3 linked regions of the Homo sapiens genome follow. The protein of the gene in region 2 interacts with the protein of the main gene of each other region in a biochemical or structural test. Each region holds a gene or a part of one and is shown on either strand. Other genes may lie near its edges.

Region 1 (3,582 bases), on a different chromosome or scaffold from region 2:
GCCTCACACTTTTCTAAGTCTGGCTGCCCCGCCACAAACAAGGACTTCTGGCCCCCAGCAATTCCCAGTCCAAACAGGAAGGAGGGCCTGGCAGTCTCCGGGGGTTGCAGTTGTGGCCTCAGCTGTCAGAAGTGAACCTAACCTTCCTGTGCCAGGACCTGGGTCAAGATTGGAGATGATCCCATATGCACTTCTGTATTCAGCTGTGCGGTCTTCTGACAGAGGCGGTATGTAAAGCCAAAAAGCCCCCTAGCTACTTGTCCAGGACGCCTGCTCCTGGAGTTTCTCCAAGTTAACTCTTGTCAGCAAAGCTACATGAAATTCTGTGGCACCCTGTGGCTCTGCGTCTGTCACTCACTCACACACACGTGCTCTCTCCTGACATACCTCTGGTAACTATGGAGCTAGTCCTCAAGGTGGAATTTTACTCTCATGATAAAGACAGTCTCTTCCCCCTTCTTTTCCATCTTCCTCCCATTCCCATGAGTCCTCCACACAGGTTTGTTCCTTTAAAGGTTTATTTCTGGCAAATAAAAAAAAATAACTTATGTGGTTAGATAAATTAATGTATGTGATTAGATACGACACAGGGCAGAGCTGAACGTTCCTGTTTTCTTCTGGATCTTGAAGGTTGGTGAGAGGCCGCTGAATGAGACCCAGCCTCGTGTTTTGTGGGATGAAGAGATGCAGACAAAGTGACTCAGGTACACTGATGCTCCCTGGAGGGCTGGGAGGTGGGCTCAGAGGAAGAGGCCGAATCCAAACCTTTTTTATTGAAAAGAAATAGCTCTTGTTTGTAGCATTTAAAAGAATCAACCCAAACTCTGCACACACTCATCCGTAGTGACCATAAACATGACATACCAAGCAGAGGCTCAGAAAGATGGAGCAACAGACTGAGGACATTTTCAACATGGTACTTGGGGATACCTTTGGGAAAGATGCCTTCCCCAGCAGAGGCCAGCACTGTGGAGAGATAGGACCAGAGCCACTACTGGCACAGTTGTCAAGATCTTTTGCTTTCTGAACTCTGGGGACCGCTGCCTTTTAGCCTGAGGGGAATGTCTCCAAATTTCTTGGGTTGGTAAGTCTCAGAAGCAGCCAGCCCCTTGGTCAACAGAGGGTACCTTTCCTCCAGGAATCTGAGAATGGAACATGCTGATAGTCTGTGCTGAGATCTTAAGGCCAGCATCCCAGAGGCCTTTCCAGAGCCCAGAACCTCAAAGCTGGGAGAGAAGATTCTGGGGACTATCTGCCAGGGAGGAAACCAAGGCTCCTCGGGGGTCAGCGTGTGAGTTCCCCAGGAGCAGAGACCATGGCTTGCTCACCACTTTTGACCTGTGTCTGGTTCCTTGATGAGGTTTTGGCCTTGGCATCACTTTGGAGGTGGGGTTTACTCTCTTAGGCTATGGTGAATTTTGGTTATAATTTTTTGATAAATTAGGAACAGGCTTTAGTTGCCTGTAAACACACTGACTAAGACAGCCAGAAAGCAAGCAGGTGAGAATCAGAAGAAGCTCGAAGGGTTTTCCCTGATAAAAGCATATGCCGTGAGGCTACAGGCAGCTCATTTCTTAAGGCCCGTGCATAGACTGCAGGCTGGGCAGCTGCCTCTGCAGCCGACCTGGAGGGACTGTGTTGACCGACTGCAGGGCCAACCAGGAATTGAGGAACCTGCCTGCACAGATGGCCAGGGCCACAGCTGGCTGGACACTGGCAAAACTTAAACAAGGGCTGTTCATTGAACTAAATATGACCTCAGCATCCCTATCTAAAGACTCCTGAAAGGCCCAAGTAAAATCTAAATTTTCAAATCACTGGGCAGTTCTGAAATCCAGTTCAGGTTCCCCTTTTGGCCATCGGGAACAGCAATTTCTGGCACAAAAATCAGCCCAAGGATTCAAAGCCCTCGAGGAGTAGAGGGGTGTGAGAAGAACCACATGTCAACACACCGGCTCTCTCTTCACAGAGATACACTTCTATGCTCCAGACCTGGGGCCGTTTTTACTCTGACACCACTCTCTTATTAGGTGTTCTGAAAGTTCACACTCCCAAATGAACTCATGCCTGTGTTATTTTCCTTTGAAGGACCAGAAGGCCCCCTCAGTACCATCTGAGGACACCGCAGTAGTGCCTATTAAATAACATCCAGACAAGGCATGGCCCTTCAACTATCTTATGAAATGAGAAACCACCACACCGGCCACGAAGCCGTTCACATACACATGTGCAGGGTGGATGAGGAAAGGACAGATGAGAAACTGGGACCATACCAGGTGATAACTGAGAACCAAACTCCCCAAAGCTCCCAGCACTGGACGACTCCAGAAAGGTGAGTATTTATATAGCTCCTACAAAAATAAACTTTCGATGCCTGTTCTTTAGAGTTATAAAGGAAAGGCCTTTGCATTTGGTTTGTCTCTGGAGGCTTTTCTGGTATCAAATGCAGTAAAGGTTTTAAATGACTCTGAGGCAAGGTGGAAGAACTGGCTGCCTGCCCCTGCCTTGGTCCTGGGTTTTCAGGATGGGATGGGGCACAGGCAGAAGAGGGCAGCTGCCCTGGGCACAGCATAGAAGAGCAGAGGGTGGGGTGGGCTGGGCCACAGAGGGGATCCCCAGAGTCCTGTTACAGGAGGCCATGAACACATTGTGACTCTGAGCATTGGGGTCTGACTCCTGAGTGTCTCTGGAAGCACGTGTGCCCCTCCTCTCAGTGTCCGGCCAAGGCAGGCATGAGGTGTTGGATCAGCTCCACTCAAAGAGGGCGAGCCAAGAGTGTGCCAGCTTTTCCCCAACAGGCTAGGGCTCCAGCAGCTCCCCTCCTCTTCAGAACTGGTGCCCACACACTGTCAGTGTCCTACACATACTCTCACTTGCTTTTCCTTTACAGCGTCTTTTCTCTAACTTTACTGGTCTGAAAAAAAAAAATTCTAATACGTGCAGCACTTATAAGTAACTTATAAATATGGGAAGCTGTCAGAAGTTTATGTATTTTAAAACCATGACATGGGCTAGAGTCTGGTGAAACAAGATCGGGCAAGGTCGAAAGGTGACATCTTCGGAGGACCAAAGCACCAACTTTCCCCCGTCAGTGGAACTTTGAAACTATAGTGTGGATGGAGTCCAAGACATGATAGCACACCAGAGAGAGAGAGAGAGAGAGAGGCGGAGGGTGAGTGCCTTTAACTGTTACCAGTTTTGAAAATCATGTACTTCCATTAACTTTTACCTTCCCCACTATGAATTCTTTCAAACACTCCTGCTCCCTGGCATTAGATTCTGTCCCACGAGCCATTCATCTTCCATGCACTGCCTTGGCTAAAGGTGCAGATTAAGGGTAAATTCAAGCCCTTCCCTTCCTATGGGAGGGCTCTGAAAAGGGGAAAGAAAAGAGGGGAAAAATATGAAATTCTGGAAGTGTGACATCCAGAAAATGAAAACATCTTATGTCTTATGTGATAATAAGTAAAACTATCTTGTTAAAGGTTCACATTGATTTTAGGATGCATTTAGATTTTCTGGATATTAAGACAGAAAAAAAGGCGTTTTGGGTTGGAGGACAGGGGACAGGTTTGTAAGCAG
Region 2 (7,168 bases):
GACGGAGGAGGACCGAGCTGTACGGAGGAGGACCGAGCTGGACCGAGGAGGACCGAGCTGGACCGGGGAGGACCGAGCTGGACCAGGGAGGACCAAGCTGGACCCGGGAGGACCAAGCTGGACCCGGGAGAGGCAGAGGACAGGGAAGGAGTCAGTGGGTTCTGGGCCAGTTCTGAAGGTGAAGCTGCCATCATTTGCTGCCAGATCAGCCGTGGAAGTGGGGCAGGGGCAGGGATGCAGCTGACCTTTCCAGGGCATCACAGAGACAGATCAGCCGTGGGAGTGGGGCAGGGGCAGGGATGGAGCTGACCGTTCTGGGGCATCACAGAGACAGGACAGCCTGGGAGAGGCTCAGACACGCCCAGGCCACAGCTCAGACCAAACTCCACCACAGGCCATCGGCCCACACAGTGGGCACAGCCGCATCCCAAGCCCCGGCCTTCCCGAGACCGCCCCCACGTGCCCCACGGCCACGGCCCATGGAGACGCCATTCAGGCCACGCCTCGGGAGCCAGGAGCCCAGGCAATTAGAGGAACCAAATTCTAAACACCAACGAGACATTGCTTTGCCTCCCATCGGATCAGCCGAAATCGCCAAGGACGATGACACTGGGAGCTGGCAGTGCCGTGGGAAACGGGCAGCCTCCCTCGGCCCCTGTCGGACAAGGCTCCCGCTGTAGCTGAGCTTTCTGGAAGGTGTCGCCATCGCTTCTAACAGTGAGCGGTGACTCCAGAAACCACGGGCATGGGCCTCAGCAGGGGCCTGGAGGCACCGATGGTGGAGAGGCCGGAAAGGGGTGGCCAACCGGCACGACAATCACCAAGCACGAGCGCCAACTCATCCCAGGCTCAGCCCCTAGCACACACGGTCATCACCCCACTTCACAGACGGGACGCTGAAGCCCGGGGAAGTGACGGCCACACAGCACCTGAAGCGCGGAGCTGGGAGGGGGACATCGGCGGGACCAACTCTGGGGCTCCCCCTTAACCACTGCCTGGCGCTCGCCCTCTCTACAAACCGATACCAACATAGGGTGGGGAGACTCCAGATGACCAGAGATAAAAAGCAAGCAGTTCACAGAGTCATAAACGTGTGGCATTTCTCACCAGGGCCGTCCTGCCCCCAGGGGACACTGAACGGTGTCTGGGTCACTTGTGGCTGTCACAACTGGCAGGTGCTCCTGGCATGGAGTGGGCAGAAGCCAGGGGCGTTGCTCAGCACCCCTAATTTCCTGACTCAAAATACCTCTGCCAAGGCACAGAAGCCCCAGTGAGGCATGAAACCATCTCGGTGAAGAACAAGCAGGCCCCTTTATGTGCTCACGTCTCTGTGGCCCAGCCAGGCACAACCTAAACTCACCAGCGCTAACATCAGGAGGGATGGCGTTGGAGGAGTGAGGCAACTCTGAATTTTAAACATTCAGAAGCAGTATATGGCCAGCTGGGGTCAGATTTCTGTGGATTTCAGGGATGGGCAGAGATGCCAGACCCTGACCTTCCAGCCCTCCCCGGCCCCCCACCCCCACCCCCCCACTCCCCCGCTCTCCCACCCCACCACCATGCTCAGTCTGGAGCTGGCAACTTTATCTGTCCCCGGTGCTCCCAGAGCCCCTGATAAGATGAATGGTCGCGGTGTGGTTTTCTTTTGGTCAGCGAGTCCTGGGCTACTTTGTCTCTGACCAGCTGGGGTCAGAGGGCTGACAGCGGAAGTTGGGGGGCCCAAGAAAGGAACCCGGGCTGGGGCCTGGTGCCCTGCCTGGGTTCCTCCACCATGTCTCTTGCTGGCCAGGCCAGGACACCGGCTGCCCGCAAAGAAAGGGGCGAGGCCACTGGCTCTGGGGAAGGAACCGGGTCACCTACCAAGCGGTTCCAGATGGCCGCCGGGAGGGAAGCCACGAGTGTCTTTCAAGGCGGGGGGTGGGGGGGGGACTTGATGACTTCCACACTCTCTCTCTCTCCAGACATCTCCCCAACTCCCAGGCAGCACGCATCGCCCGCCCGCCCGCTTGCCCGCCTGCCAACCAAGGAAGCTTCGGGAGGCCTGGGGGGAGAAGGAGGACGGATGCCCGTGTGGGTGTCTACAGAGACGCTGCTGCTGGCTGCCTGGGAGGAGCAGAGGATTTTGTGAATCCGGAAACTTCCGATTTGGGAGCTTGTGACCTCGACTGAGAAGGAACTGTTCCCTTCCTCTGGGCTCTGCACACCGTCCCCACAGAAGGGAAGGCCCAGCTGCCGCCACCTACCCGGCTGGAGGTCCAGGAAGCAGCTAAAGGGGGCATGAGACAGCCGTGCCCCCCGCCCAGCCCGCAGCCCCACCAGTGTGTCCTGGGGGAAGGCTCGGGGAGAGGAAAAGGGGGCGACAGGGCACCCTGTGTGCACAGCCGGGGCGGTGGAGGCATCTTGAGATGTAACCCTTTTCCTCCCCTCATTTTAGCAGGGAGGTAAACTGAGGCCCAGGAAGGTGAGGAAAGGTCGCGCACCCGGACTCAGGTCTGGGGACTTACAGAAAGGGAGGTGACATCAGGAGGTGGGCACGCACGGCCTCAGAGACCCCCGCCTCCACCCAAGCAGCCGCCACTCACACGACGGGCAGCCCCTGGGAGCGGGTCAGGCAGAACGGGGATCCCCAGCGGCGCCCACGCCGAGTCGCCCCCGGCCCGGGAGCGGTGGGAGGTAGCCCCTCGCAGGCCTCCCGCTTCCCGGCGCGGCTTCAGCCCCGTCCTCCCCGCGGCTCCAGGGGACTGCCCCGCCCCAGGCTCCTGGAACCGGCGGCGCCCCCGCAGCGACCGTGCAGCCCCCGCCCCGGCCCCGCAGCCCCGCGACTCTCGGCGCTCGGACGAGCCCAGCGGGCCGCAGCCCCGGGAGGCCGGGCCGTTACCTGCCGCCGCCCCGCTCTCTGCCGCCCACGCCGCCTCCGAGGGCACGGCCCCCGCCTCAGCGCTCTCCGCCTCGTCCGGTACCTCCAGCTCCATGGCCGCGCGCGGACGGCGGCGGGGGCGCCCGAGGGGGACCCGAGCTGCGACCGCCGCCGCCGAACAACAAGCGCCGCCGGCCAAGGGAGGGCGCGCCGGGCCGGCGCGGGGCGGACGGGGCGGGGCCTGCGTGCGTGCGACGCCGCGGACGGCGCGCGGCCAATCGGGGCTCGGGGGCGGGGCCTGCTTGCGACCCGCAGCCAGGAGCGCCTCGAGTGCCCCCTCGCGCCCAGGGGTGGGAGTACAGAGCCAGGCTCGCCATTCCATCGTATTAGGTCAGTAAGATTGACAGGCACGATACGTATCAATAACATTGCTGTGCACAACACATACCAATAACATGGATCTACACAACACATGACAATAATATGGATCTATACAGCACGTGCCAATAATATGGATGTACACAGCACATGCCAATAACATGGATCTAAACAGCACATGCCAATAACAGGGACCTGCACAGCGCATGACAATAACATGGATCTGGCCGGGCGCGGTGACTCACGCCTATATTCCCGGCACTTTGGGAGGCCGAAGAGGGCGGATCACCTGAGGTCAGGAGTTCAAGACCATCCTGACCAACATGGTGAAATCCTGTCTCTACTAAAAATACAAAAAATAGCTGGGCGTGGTGGCACATGCCTGTAATCGCGGCTACTCGGGAGGCTGAGGCAGGAGAATCGCTGGAACCCAGGAGGGAGAGGTTGCAGTGAGCTGAGATCGCACCATTGCCCTCCAGCCTGGGCCACAGAGTGAGACTCTGTCCCAAAAAAAACCACACATGGACCTACACAGCACATGCCAATAACATGGAGTTACCCAATGCATGCCAATAACATGGATATACACAATACATGCCAATAACACGGATATGCACAATACATGCCAATAACATGGATATACACAATACATGCCAATAACATGAATCTATACTATATCATTGACATGGATCTACATAAAACATACAAATAGCATTGCTATATGCAATACATGCCAATCACATTGCTATACACAATGAATACCAATAACATTGATCTACACAATACATGTAACTAACATTGATACACACACTACATGTCAATAACATTGATATACACACTACATGCCAATAACATGGATATACACACTACATGCCAATAACATTGATATACACACTACATGCCAATAACATTAATGTACACACTACATGTCAATAACATTGATATACACACTACATGTCAATAACATTGATATGCACAAAATATACCAATAACAGTGATATACACAGTACATGTAAATAATATTGATCTACACAGGGCCGGGCGCGGTGGCTCATGCCTGTAATCCCAAGACTTTGGGAGGCCGAGGCGGGCGGATCACGAGGTCAGGAGATTGAGACCATCCTGGTTAACATGGTGAAACCCCGTCTCTACTAAAAATACAAAAAATTAGCCAGGCGTGGTGGCGGGCGCCTGTAGTCCCAGCTACTTGGGAGGCTAAGGCAGGAGAATAGGGTGAACCTGGGAGGCAGAGCTTGCAGTGAGCTGAGATCGTGTCACTGCACTCCAGCCTGGGCAACAGAGCGAGACTCCATATCAAAAAAAAATATATATATATATAGATCTACACAATACATGTTATTAACATTGATCTACGCAATACATATCAATAACATTTGCAATTAACTACCTGTTTATTATCATATTGCAAATAATATTTATATTCCATCGTTTGTATTACGTAAGTATAGATATGTTATTGTTTTCTTTATATTATTTTATCAATAATAATACAGTTTGCTATTATAAGAAACATATAATTATAGAAATACATAATAAATTATATATATTTATGCAAATGTAAGTAGCAATATTTATATCCTTCTTTTTTTTTTTTGAGATGGAGTCTTGCTGTTGTTGCCCAGGCTGGAGTGCAGGGGGGCGATCTGAGCTCACTGCAACCTCTGCCTCCAGGGTTCAAGTGATTCTCCTGCCTCACCCTCCCAAGTAACTAGGACTACAGGTACGTGCCACCACGCCCGGCTAATTTTTGTATTTTTAGTAGAGATGAGGTTTCGCCATGTTGGCCAGGCTGGTCTTGAACGCCTGACCTCGTGATCTTCCCGCCTCAGCTTCCCAAAGTGCTGGGATTACAGGTGTGAGCCACTGCGCCCGGCCATATTTATGTTCTTTATATAAGCACATAATAAGGCTTATGTTGTTTATGTTAATTTAAGTAATAACGTTTATATTATTTACATAAATGTAAATCATAATGATTATATTACCTATGCACATAAATAATGTTTGGGGTGGGCACAGAGGCTCCCGCCTGTAATTCCAGCACTTTGGGAGGCCAAGGCAGGAGGATTACTTGAGCTCAGGAGTTCTAGACCAGCCTGGGTAACATAGTGAGCCCTCTCATCTCTACAAAAAAAATTTTTTTAATTAGCTAGGTGTAGTGAGACCCCTCATCTTTACAAAAAAAATTGTTTTTTAATTAGCCAGCTACTTAGTAGGCTAAGGTGGGAGGACTGCTTGAGCCCGGGAACTCAAGGCTGCAGTGAGCTATGATCGCACCACTGCACTCTGGCCTGGGCAACAGAGAAAGACCCCGTCTGTCCCCGCAAAAAAAAAAAACAAACAAAAAAAACAAAAAGACAAATTCTGTGTGGTTCCACTCCTAGGAGGTCCCTAGAGTTGTCACATTCACAGAGACAGAAAGTAGGATGGGGGGTGCCAGGGGCTTGGGGGGAGACGAGGAGTGAGTGTTTCACAGGGGCAGACTTCCAGTCTCAGAAGATGAGAACATTCTGGAGATGATGGCGGTGATGTTTGCACAGCCATGGGAATGTGCTTAAGGCCACGGAGCTGTGCTCTTAGACATGGTGAAAATGGGCCGGGCGCGGGGGCTCACACCTGCAATCCCAGCACTTTGGGAGGCCGAGGTGGGCGGATTACCTGAGGTCGGGAGTTCAAGACCAGCCTGACTAACATGGAGAAACCCCGTCTCTACTAAAAATACAAAATTAGCCAGGCGTGGTGGCGCGTGCCTGTAATCCCAGCTACTCGGGAGGCTGAGGCAGGAGAATCACTTGAACCCGAAAGGCAGAGGTTGCAGTGAGCCAACATGGCACCACTGCACTCCAGCCTGGGCGACAGAGCAAGACTCTGTCTCCAAAAAAAAAAAAAAAAAAAAAAGAAGAAGAAGAAGAAGAAAGAAATGGTGAAAATGGGCCGGGTGCGGTGGCTCACGCCTGTCATCCCAGCACTTTGGGAGGCCGAGGCTGGCAGATCACCTAAGGTCAGGAGTTCAAGACCAGCCTGGTCAATGTGGTGAAACCCTGTCTCTACTAAAAATACCAAAAAATTAGCTGGGCATAGTGGCACAGGCCTATAATCCCAGCTACTCGGGAGGCTGAGGCAGGAGAATCACTTGAACCTGAGAGGCAGAGGTTGCAGTGAGCCAACATGGCACCACTGCACTCCAGCCTGGGCAACAGAGCAAGACTCGAAAAAAAAGAAATGGTGAAAATTGTGAATTGTATGTTGTGCGTATTTTACTACCATTTTTTGTTTTTTCTTTTTTGAGATGAGTCTTGCTCTGTTACCCAGGCTGGAGTGCAGTGGCGTGATCTCGGCTTACTGCAGCCTCTGCCTCCCAGGTTCAAGCGATCCTCCCACCTCAGCCTCCCAAGTAGCTGAGACCACAGGTGTGTGCTACCATACCTGGCTAATTTTTGTAATTTCAGTAGAAATGGGATTTCACTGTGTTGGCCAGGCTGGTGTCAGGTGATCTGCCCACCTCGGCCTCCCAAAGTGTGAGGATTACAGGCGTCAGCCACTGCAGGCGGCCTTGACCATTTTAAGGCTCCAGGAAGAGTTCTTTGGACGCAGGTCATGGACAGAGCTCCTGATTCACCCAGAATCTGTTTTGAAAAAAGATTTAGACCACTGGCTCTCAAGGTGTGGTCCCTGGGCCAGCCACATCAGCCTCACCCTGGGAGCTTGTTAGAAATGCAGGTTCCAAAGCCAGGTGCAGTGGTTCATGCCTGTAATCCCAGTGCTTTGGGATTGAGGCTGAGGCAGGAGAATCACTTTAGCCCAGGAGTTCAAGACCAGCCTGGGCAACATAGCAAGATCCCATCTCTACAAAACAAATTAAAAATTAGTCTGGCGTGGCCAGATGCAGTGGCTCACGCCTGTAATCCCAGC
Region 3 (4,726 bases), on a different chromosome or scaffold from region 2:
GCCACCAAGCACCATCACTTACCTAACTGACAGCCCAAAGCCAGCATTATATGTAACTCTGGCAGGACTAATCCCCTTCGTTGCCCCACCACTGGTCATGCTGATGACAAAAACTTATATTCCCATATTAGCTTTTACTCAGATGGCTTATGGAGCCAGTTTCCATCTTTCTTGGGTGGGATCAGATGCGGTTTTGCTCTACCAGAAGGTAGTCCAGCCAAACCAGACTACCTTAATTTAGCTAGCAGTACAGCTCCTCTTTTCTTTTCATGGTTTGCCTTCTTATTTCTGAAAGACTTAGTGAAGCCATAGTCACAGTAATAATGGGTATGCGGGTAGCATTACACCTTCAACTTTTTCTCTTACCACATTATCCCAACTGGTTTAAAGCCCTGAAGATAGTAGTCACTTTACTGGCCACTTTTTCATTTATAATCACTTTAGTAGTTAAAAACAGTTTTCCAGAAAAAGGACATAAGAGACCTGGTCAAGTATAAAAAATCTAAAAATACACTGTAGATAACATTTGTATGCCGGCTACACCTTTTTCTACTTCTGTTTGGCTTTTTTCCCCCACACCAATGGTAATTTATTCTCCACGGATTGTTCTTCATTTCTAGAAATTGTTATTTCATAGTAATTACTTGAGCAAAAGCTTGAAAATCCCTGACAAGTACTTTTCATCTCATAGTGTATTAGTTTTCACTCAGTCATTTTATGAATAATATAGTTATCCACTTAAACATTTCAATATTTTAACCATCTTGAAAATTAAAAGATTAAAAATCCCCCCCACCCGACCTCCCCCCCCCAAAAAAAAGCCTACTCCTTAGGCTGAACTGGGTGCATCTGCCAGACCATATGTGGAGGGAAAGGTCCTCAGACACAATCAGCACAAAATCACAAGGTCATCTTGGATGTGGGCAAACCTTGTTTTAATTGCAAACAACTTAATTTACAGCACATTCAATAATGAACCAACAGGAGAGTTGCTGACTTTGTAACATATGAATATATAAAAATCCCTTGCAATTCAGGTAGTCAAGGTAAAAAGCGCATACAAGGAAGGCAATCCTCATTTTTCTGAAAATGTTTACATTTTAAAAGGTGACTAGACATACTTGGAAGTTCAAAGCAGTAGGATGTAGCTTGCAGGGAAAAGAAAACCCTTTTCCATGTTGTTAGGCAGAAGTATATCAAATATATCCCAATTCCACTTGATAAAGTCAGTTGGATGACCTCCTTGAACCAATCTAGGGCAGAACACTTAGTAAAAGCGGGCCCTGGGTGGGGATGTGAATCCAGGAGAAGAGGGGCACCAGATCCCATGCAGCGCCAAACACATCCATTCCACCCTCTAACACATACGAGGCATGTCACCCCATGTCCCTGGACACAAGATCCACAAGAACAGTCAGCAGATGGTCACTGCTCCCACGGCCTGGTGCTTTCTAATGGTCTTAATTCAGGCCATGGAGAAAATCCTTTACCACCAAACACAAACTGTCATTGAACTTCAGTCATAAAGGATGTTGTGGGGGAAATTCTTGTAACACATACATAAGGACTTCTATTTACCTAATTAGAACAATGATTACACAATTGACATTCCTGTTTCCATAAGGTTTTGTTCTCTATGCTGGAATGGCTGAAGAAAAAGTTGTCTATTTTTGGTTTTATTTTACATTTTCAAAAGAGAGGGAACAGAGAGAAAAATGCCCAACTTTGGGGCCCAGCAGGTACAAAAGCAGACTTCTAGGTCCATCAGATTTGGGGGAAGTTTCAATGCCTAGGGAAGGTTAGTGAAGCCCATTATATCCCCAATCGTACAGGAAGAATTCTACAGTTAATCTATCACAGTGTTCCAGCAAAGCATATGTTGAAAACTACAGTTTTCAATCTAACATCTAAATTTTAAAAAGTAGCATTTCAGCAACAAACAAGCTCAGAGAGGCTCATGGCAAAAGTGAAATAACAGAACTATTGCTCAGATGTCTGCAAAGTCAAGCTGCTGCCCTCAGCTCCGCCCACTTGAAGGCTTAGGCAGACACGTAAGGTGGCGGTGGCTCCTTGGCAGCACCATTCACAGTGGCATCATCATACGGGGGTAGCAGCACCTGAGAAGAAAGAGGGACGGCAAGAGTTAATGTTTGAAGAGCACACACGTTCCCCGAGGTTTAGCTTTTACTGAACTTTTATGCAACTAAACATGTTCCACAACTTGTACCAAGTTCAATTTTCTAGCAAGTGGATACACTTCATTAAAAGACTTTTTGAATCCTTAAAGGAGCAAATGGAGAGCGACTCTCAAGCCTTGAGTTTTTCTAACCCTGTCCATGTGTAGCTGGATGGCCAGAGGTCGGTGACTCTAAAAGAAATGGTGATGGCTCTGAAGAGGAAAAAAGACCCCTAGGTGAGTGTGTCCATGTGCACACACAAATAGGGCAGGCACTTGATTGACTACAGTAACCACTCATGGTGAGAACTGCAAAGTGCAGTGAAAACGCCAAGCTTTTGGTATCAGCCTGGATTCAAAGCCTGGGTCAGTCACATTTTATCAGCGTAGCCTTGGGTAAGTTCCTTAACATCAGTTTCCATGTCTATGAAATAAGGATACCTCAGAGTTGGCGGTCTATACACTGGCTGATTTCGGCTTTCTTGGAGTAGAAAATGGAATACAGAATAGTTATATCACCCTTCATTCAGTAAACTAACATTTATTATGCATCTAGTATGTAATAGTCATTGTGAGTATAAGATAATTGAGACAAAAGACAGTCCCTGCCCTTTAGGAGTTCAGAGATGAGAAGACAAAACAAAACCTCACCCACCTCAAGTGATTTGTGGAAAGGGAAAGACTATTCACAAACAAAACCACACTTGGTTAGATTTTCTATCAGGGATATCACTTATGCTTAAAGTGGTATTCATCAATTTTGTTAATTTTCATTTATCTGTCCCTTTAGCTCCTACTAGAACCACACTAAAATTTTGTTAAGTTTTTGTCACATTGCACTCTCCCAAACACACACACACACACACACACACCCCTCCTCTCCAGCTCTACACACTTCATTACTTCTCTCCTCCCAGTCTTGGAGCTCCTGTGGGGCTGAAGCCAGGTCTCACTTCCTCGAGGGTGGGCCAGTGCCTATCCGACAGCAGGAACTCAGATGTTTGCGGAGTGACGGAGGTGCCACTTAGGCCGGCCCCCGAAAAGCCTGTATGGTTCCTTCAGCTGCCTAGGCAGAGGGCACCTGTACTGGCTAGGGTCCAGTCAGAACACAGAAGCCACACAGTGATGTGAATATAGTTTCATGAAGAATTATTAACAGGAGACTGAGGAACCGGGAACTGACTCATGGCGGGGAAAGAGCACTAATGGATAAGAAGATTGAAGTACGGCACTCAGGGACGGAACAAGCTAGAACAGAGGTCCCCAAGGCTGGGCTGAGACACGGCTAGGGAGGGTGTGGCTGAAGCCCATTGGACAGTGGAGAGGCTTCCCGCTGAACCAGGTAGAGGCCAGTGTGCACAGAATCACCTGCGGGAAGCCGTTCCCGGGAGCCACGGCCCGCTCTGGAAACCGCCTGAGAGGCGCTGCCACCGCTGTCTCCGCTCGCACTGGGCCCTGGGGAGCACTGCCAGCAAGATCTGAACACTGCAGAAACACACAGGAACCGGGGGCGGGCAGGCGGGCAGGGGGGTGGAGGAGGGGGGGTGGCGGCTTTCCTCCTCCAGTGCCCCCTACTGGCCTGGCTGAACAGGGTCAGGAGGTGAAGGAGGAGTATCTGCAAGGCCCAGCCCATGTCAAGCTAAATGGGACTCTGGAGCTGTGATGCAAGAAGCCGATAACTGGCCAGCAACACACAGGCAAAGGCAATGCGCCAGAGTCGCACCCGCCAGCCGGCCTTTGTTCCTGAAAGAGGTAGTGATCTTTGCCTATGTGCTAAATACTTTATATGTCAGGTATTAACCAAGATACAGAGTCTGGGGCAAATGTTCAGCGTTGCCCACGTGGAAAAGGAATGGAGTAGGCAAGATACACTCAGTACAGAACACATGCCTGAGGTAAGGAAGCACAGCAGGAAACTAAGTCCAACAAACCAGCACCCACTGAGCACCTAGGTGTCCAGGGAACTCAGTCACAGCGACTTGAACCTGAAAACATGTCACTGTCTGTTCAGGGGCCTGCAATCTAGCAGAAGGCAGACACAGGTAAAACTCAACATGAGCAATGTGTGGATGCAGACAAGTTAGGAAAGAACAGACAAGGACAACCAATTTAGGCTAGGGAGTCAAGGAAGGCCTCTCAGTAGGATGACCAGGTGTGCAGTAAAGAGGATGACATTCCAGTAGGGAGTTAAGAGGAAAGCAGGACACAGGGCACTTTCTGGGAACTGCAAGGTGTTTGCTACAGTGAACACTGAAGGGAGAATGTTGCAGAGATGAAGTTGGAAAGATAGGCACAGGTCAGCACATGAAGAGAGCCTCATGGTCGACCTTGACAAGTTCTAGCCAGTATCTAACAACAGCATCTCCACTAGCAATTCCAAAAGTGTCAGCTTGAGCTGCGGGAAGAAAAAAGTATTCTCTAAAACAAAGCAACAGCTGTCTTCTCTGCGTGTGCATATTTGACTTTAGGACTGAGCCCCCAGCGCACATACGTGTGTGTGCATTAGATACAGCAACTTATAACAAGTGGAAACAGCTGTGACCGCACCAG

Evidence for each region. Proteins that work in one complex are often made in the same cells at the same time.
Region 1: the proteins of PIP5K1C (region 2) and TLN2 form a complex in vitro, tested with the Homo sapiens proteins (one study listed by BioGRID).
Region 3: the proteins of PIP5K1C (region 2) and LAPTM4B form a complex in vitro, tested with the Homo sapiens proteins (one study listed by BioGRID).

The regions. Positions count from the first base shown.
Region 1 is NC_000015.10:62,841,550-62,845,131, reverse strand, and holds the end of TLN2 (talin-2), read right to left. Parts: 3' UTR 501-3,582; downstream 1-500. UniProt on the Homo sapiens protein: As a major component of focal adhesion plaques that links integrin to the actin cytoskeleton, may play an important role in cell adhesion. Recruits PIP5K1C to focal adhesion plaques and strongly activates its kinase activity.
Region 2 is NC_000019.10:3,697,419-3,704,586, forward strand, and holds the start of PIP5K1C (phosphatidylinositol 4-phosphate 5-kinase type-1 gamma), read right to left. Parts: upstream 3,051-7,168; 5' UTR 2,973-3,050; coding exon 2,879-2,972; intron 1-2,878. UniProt on the Homo sapiens protein: Catalyzes the phosphorylation of phosphatidylinositol 4-phosphate (PtdIns(4)P/PI4P) to form phosphatidylinositol 4,5-bisphosphate (PtdIns(4,5)P2/PIP2), a lipid second messenger that regulates several cellular processes such as signal transduction, vesicle trafficking, actin cytoskeleton dynamics, cell adhesion, and cell motility.
Region 3 is NC_000008.11:97,848,788-97,853,513, reverse strand, and holds the end of LAPTM4B (lysosomal-associated transmembrane protein 4B), read right to left. Parts: intron 2,118-4,726; coding exon 2,040-2,117; 3' UTR 501-2,039; downstream 1-500. UniProt on the Homo sapiens protein: Required for optimal lysosomal function. Blocks EGF-stimulated EGFR intraluminal sorting and degradation.